Linked DNA regions of Homo sapiens: region 2 is linked to region 1. The links come from fine-mapping of genetic effects on gene expression. A gene starts in region 1. The other region holds a variant in brackets. All regions are shown on one strand. Distances are from middle to middle.

Region 1 (2,906 bases):
AAAGATTATCTTACAGGCAGCCCTGCATTAGCATGAAGTGTTCAAATCAGTTTCTAAATATCATTATATATGGATCCTTTGAAGAACAACTCAAAAAAGGGCTCTCTCTCACAGGGAGTGTGTTGGAGTCAGCAATTAATTGGCCTTGGTAAAGCATAAATCGTAACAGCAGCAAGAGCTAATGGGTACTGAGGCCTTACCAAATGCCAGTCACTGCGATCCGCACTTTACAAGTACCATAAATTAAACCCTCCAATTCTGGGAATACCACCTCCATCCCCATTTTACAGATCTGGAGAAATTAACGCTCTACGAGGTTAAATTACGCCTACAAGGTTGCAAAGCTGCTCAGCGGCCCCTTGGCTGTACACTACTGGCCATACAAGGCACCCTGTACCAACGAATCTTCTCCCCACTTACACAACCAGAACTTGTCAACGGCAAAGGATGGCATTTAACTCAGGAGAGCCTATCCCAAAATGGTGAGAGAACTCAGCGAGCAAGGAAGGATTTTTATTAAAATTCAGATCGCCGACTCCTCCCGGTGGCGACCCTCCGTGCATGCACTCCCAAACTAGGCTCTCTTGAGTTTCTGACATCAGAACCACATTCTCCGAACCCCAATGAAGGCAGCAGCCGGCGCCAAAGTCTGCATACGAATGCAAATAACATGGCCTTTGCTTCCGAGCAGTTTCCAAATTTGCCCTCGGGATGTGAGGTAGAGACCAAGAAGCTAAGTTTGCGCCCCCGCAGGCTCTGAAATGTCTAGGATCTGACACATGCTTTGTCCCCATGAGGAGCTCCTGAGATTTCGCGTGCATCATCCGCTTAGTTCACGGTGACCTTGGGGTCGGGGACTACGGGATGAGGGGCACGGACTGTCTAAACCTCCAGGTCCCTTACAGAGGGCTCCCCGCGGGTATGGGAGCCATGCACCTGTGCCGACGCCGCCACTGCCTGGAGGGTGCGCGCGCGCCCCGGGCCGGGGATGCTGACTCAGCCCGGCTGCTCACATTCCTTTCGCGCAACGCGGATGCTGTTGCTGCCGCTGCTGCCGGTGCAGCAAAGTGGGGGAAGCAAGGCACCCGCAGCGGCCCGGCCGCTCGCTCCCTGGGGCCCACTGCGACACTCCCTCCCCACTGCCGGAAGGGGAACTGTGGGGGTGCGCGAGTTGACGAAACTGGGGGAAGTGGGCGCTGCAGGAGGAACTCAGGCGCCGCGCGCGCAGCTCACACCCAAACTGGAAGGAACCTGTTCTGCCCGGGGCGGGCGCGAAGCCGCCGCAGCCGCGAGCGCCGCGCGGGATCAGCCCCGGCGCGCGCGTGTTCCCCCTCGCCGCTAAATCCCTAAATCCTCAGGGCGCGGGCGGGACTGGGCGGTGGGCGCGCCGGGAAGGCGCCCGGGGGTGGGGACGGGGACCCGCGCGCTCGCGCCTGGCCGAGGTGCTCCGAGACAGGATGCAGGCACCCCCAACACCCTGCACGCTCGCGCTCCTACTAGCGTTGCAGCAAAGCTCCGGGGTCTGGGCGGGTCACGCGCGCAGAGGCGCACCCGGGTTGGGAGATCGGGGCGTTGTGCCAAGGACCCCGGCGGCGCTGGCGGGGGCGGCCCGGCCCCGGACCGCGACGCGGTTACCTTTCGTGACCCCCAGCCCAGGCGGCAGGCTGGCGGGCGCGCGACCGGCGCGGCTCAGGTCCACGTGGGACGGCGCGCGCGCGCCAGGCAGGCCCCCTCCTTGGCTGCGCTCAGCGCTCGCAGCACATGGTCGGCGGCGGCGCGCCCCCGAGGCCGGCGGAGACCGGCTGCAGCCGGTATAGGATAAGAGCTAGGCAGCGACGCGGGGCCGGGGCGCGGGCGGCAGCACGCACGGCCCGGGTCGCAGGCGGCCGGGGTGGGGGGCGGGGGGAGGGTGTGGCTCGGGTGCCCGAGTCGCGGGAGTGGGTGGAGGGCCCGGGCGCTCGGGCCTCACCAGCCCGAGCCAACTTGCGCTAGAGTCGGGCCCGCCCCCTAAGGGGTTAATCCTTTTCTCATGTTACCGAGCGGCTTATAAGGAGGGGGAGGCCAAGCCTCCGCCTTATTGGGAGCCTTTGGGGGTTTATTCTCTTCCCTTCTAACTTGGTGAGTTGGTTTATTATTTTACATGTTTAAAAGTTTGATTGTGGGATGTGGGTTGTTTTTTAAAAAATATGTGTTGGGGCCTTTTTTTGTGATGGGAGGCGGAGGAGACCACTGAACATCTTCACATTTTGGAGAGGTTATTCCCAAAAATATTCGCTCTGACAGTTAGGAATGCCCAGGGCCACCGGGATGACGCGCTCGCGCCGGTGTGGGTAGCTGAGAGTTGAATGTCCGTGACCCTGGTACAGTTGGGTCCCGGAAGATACCTAAAGGCACGCCTGGCCTTTGAGTGCCCCCTGCCCCGGGTTGGGGGCTCCGGGACGTCGGAAGAGTCGGGGGCTCCAGGCTCAGCCCCTCCGCGGATTTTCCGCATGAAGTTGCCTGCGCGTCGCAGGAGCGAAATGTCAGAGGTACCTTCCTACCCCAGGCTGGCGCGCGCACGCAGGCCGGGCACTGAGGCAGCGCGAGGGAAAGTGGGGCTCCCTGCCTCCCCCGACCCCCAAACACAGCACTCCCTGCGGCGGCCACCGTTTGTCCCCAGCGGGAAGCCGGGGATTTCCCGGCAGAGCGCGGGTCCTCCACCTGGACTGTCAGAACTGTCAGCGGCTGACGGCCGGTCCCGCGCAACTTCAAGGTTCCCGGGCTGCCAACCGCAGGAAAGCGCTGGTGTCGCCAAGCAGTTCCGTAGCAAGGGAAGATGGTTTTGCAGAGGAAATGGGTTATTTCCTTCTAGGTTGTTGTCGTCTTTTCTTTTTATTCCCCCCACCCTAGCAAGACAGGTCATAGAA
Region 2 (2,906 bases), 23 kb before region 1:
ATTTCTGCCTGGGTGCCACCCACGCACTTTGTAATCCCAGCACTTTGGGAGGCCGAGGCAGGTGGATCACCTGAGGTCGAGTTCAAGATCAGCCTGGCCAACATGGTGAAATGCTGTCTCTACTAAAAATACAAAAATTAGCCAGGTATGGTGGCACACACTTGTAGTCCCAGCTACTCGAGAGGTTAAGGCAGGAGAATCACTTGAACCTGGGAGGCAGAGGTTATAGTGAGCCAAGATCGCGCCACTGCACTCCAGCCTAGGCGATAGAGCAAGACTTCATCTTAAAATAAATAACTAAATACAATCCCATTTCTCAGGTTGCCTCTTATGCTTGGACAGCACAAAAATCCTTCATTAGCACCAAAGGGAGAAAAAAAATGATGAGATTCCAATCTCCTTTTTTTTTTGAGACAGGATTTCACTCCATCACCCAGGCTGGAGTGCAGTGACACGATCATAGCTCACTGTGGCCTCAACCTCCTGGGCTCAAGCAATCCTCCTGACTCCGCCTCCGGAGTAGGTAGGACCACGCCCAGCTAATTTATTGATTTTTTTGTAGAGATGAAGTCTTGCTATGTTGCCCAGGCTGCTCTCAAACTCCTGAGCTCAAGCAATCCTTCCGCCTCGATCTCCCAAAGTACTGGAATTACAGATGTGAACCACCACGCCTGGCCTCCTGCTCTTTGACAGCCATATGGGAAAGCTGGCCAAATCTTGATGGATTCTCTTTGCTGATTCCCCAGTTCTGCCCAGCCCTGAAAGAATAAGGCTCTAGAATGAGGAAATCTGAGTTTGAATATTGGCTTGGCCACTCACCAACTCTGGGCGTGTTACTTAACCTCAATTTCCTCATCTGAGATATAAGAGAAAAGTAGGGTGGTACCAAGAATTAGCCAGGGTAATGCCTAGAGCCTGGCACCTTGCAAGAGCTTGGTAAGGGTTAGTGATTGTTGCAGCTGTTGTGTTGATTCAAATAAAGGTGTTGGCCCCAATGCACAGCCAGCATAGGGATTAACAGGAATTTGTCACTGGAACTCCACCTCATCCTTCCAAGTTTTGTCACTGGACCTTTTATCATGCAGATTAGCCAATTCACACTGACATTCCATTTGGACATTTCTAGTAACAATAACAAAAATAACCATAGCTAACATAGAACCCTATCTATTGTATGCTAGGCTCTATGCTAACTGATTACACAGATTACTTAATTTTTTATTTTTTATTTTTTTTATGAGACACTCTGTTGTCCAGGCTGGAGTACAATGGCATGATCATAGCTCACTGCAGCCTTGAACTCCTGGCATTAAGGGATCCGTGTGCTTCAGCCTCTGGAGTAGCTGGGACCACAGATGTGCAACACCACACCTGGTTTACAGATTACTTAATTTTTTTTTTTTTTTTTTTTGAGATGGAGTCTTGCTCTGTTGCCCAGGCTGGAGTACAATGGCGCAATCTCAGCTCACTGCAACTTC[C/T]GCCTCCCGGGTTCAAATGATTCTCCCGCCTCAGCCTCCCGAGTAGCTGGGATTACAAGCATGTGCCGCCACGCCTGGCTACTTTTGTATTTTTAGTAGAGATGGGGTTTCTTCTTGTTGGTCAGGCTGGTCTCAAACTCCTGACCTCAGGTGATCCATCTGCCTCGGCCTCCCAAAGTGCTGGGATTACAGGTGTGAGCCACTGTGCCCGGCCCAGATTACTTAATTTAACCCTCACAACATCCTGTGAGGTAGAGGTGCTATCATTGTCCCCACTTACAGAAGAGGAAAGCAAAACTCCAGGGGATGATGCAGTTTGCCCGGGGCCACAGATAGGAAGTGGCAGAGCTGGGATTTGAGCTCAAACTGTCTGGCTCCTGCCCTCTTAAGCATGACATTTAGTCTTTAATGCGACAGATACTGACTGACCACCTACTACATTATAGACTGCGTTAGAAGCGGAGTAAAAAGAGATATGTAGGCCAGGCATGGTGGCTCACGCTTGTAATCCCAGCACTTTGGGAGGCCAAGGCAGGTGAATCACTTGAGGTCAGGAGTTCAAGACCAGCCTGGCCAACATGGCAAAACTCCGTCTCTACTAAAAATACAAAAATCAGCCGTGCGTAGTGGCAGGTGCCTGTAATTCCAGCTACTCAGAAGGCCGAGGCAGGAGAATCGCTTGAACCCGGAGGCGGAGGTTGCAGTGAGCCAAGATTGCACCACTGCACTCCAGCCTGGGCAACAGAGTGAAACTGTGTCTCAAAAAAAAAAAAAAGAGAGAGAGAGAGATACGTAATACAGCTAATTGCACCAGACTGAACAGCGTTCCCCTCAATTTCATATCAATCCAGAACCTGTGACGTGACCTTATTTGGAGATAGCGTCTTCGCAGATGTCATTAAGTTAAGATGAGGTCATACTGGAGTAGGGTGGGCCTTCAATCCAAAGACTGGTATTTTTATTAGAGGAGGGGAGTCTGGACACTGGCATGAAAGAACGCCTCATAACAACTGAGGCGGAGATAGGAGTCTAGAAGCCCAGAATGCCAAGGATTCCAGCAGGCACCAGAATCCAGGAGAGAGGCAAGGAATGGATTCTCTGTCAGAGCCTTCAGTCATAACCTTGATTTTGGACTTCTGGCTCTCCGAACTGTGAAAGGACAAAGTAATGTTTTTTTGTTTTTATTTTTGTTTTTTTTGAGATGGAGTCTCACTCTGTCACCCAGGCTGGAGTGCAGTGGCGCAATCTCGGCTCACTGCAATCTCTGCCTCCCGGGTTCACGCCATTCTCCTGCCTCAGCCTCCTGAGTAGCTGGGACTACAGGCACCTGCCACCATGCCCGGCTAATTTTTTGTATTTTTAGTAGTGACAGCGTTTCACCACGTTAGCCAGGATGGTCTTGATCTCCTGACCTCGTGATCTGCCCGC

What was found.
Region 2: its variant is fine-mapped to the expression of ARSG in whole blood (TOPMed, PIP above 0.99).

The regions. Positions count from the first base shown.
Region 1 is chr17:68,290,298-68,293,203 of GRCh38, reverse strand. ARSG (arylsulfatase G) reads right to left here and starts at 1,709. Exons shown (of 12, transcript NM_001267727.2): 1 at 1,636-1,709. It overlaps SLC16A6 (solute carrier family 16 member 6), which reads left to right and starts at 2,077. Exons shown (of 6, transcript NM_004694.5): 1 at 2,077-2,118. RefSeq lists an enhancer at 622-851 and silencers at 1,711-1,885, 1,252-1,941.
Region 2 is chr17:68,313,031-68,315,936 of GRCh38, reverse strand. All of the region lies in intron 2 of ARSG (arylsulfatase G), which reads right to left. Among named protein-coding and RNA genes, the nearest start is that of ARSG, 23 kb to the right of the region's middle. The variant C/T (reference allele first, on the strand shown) is at 1,479.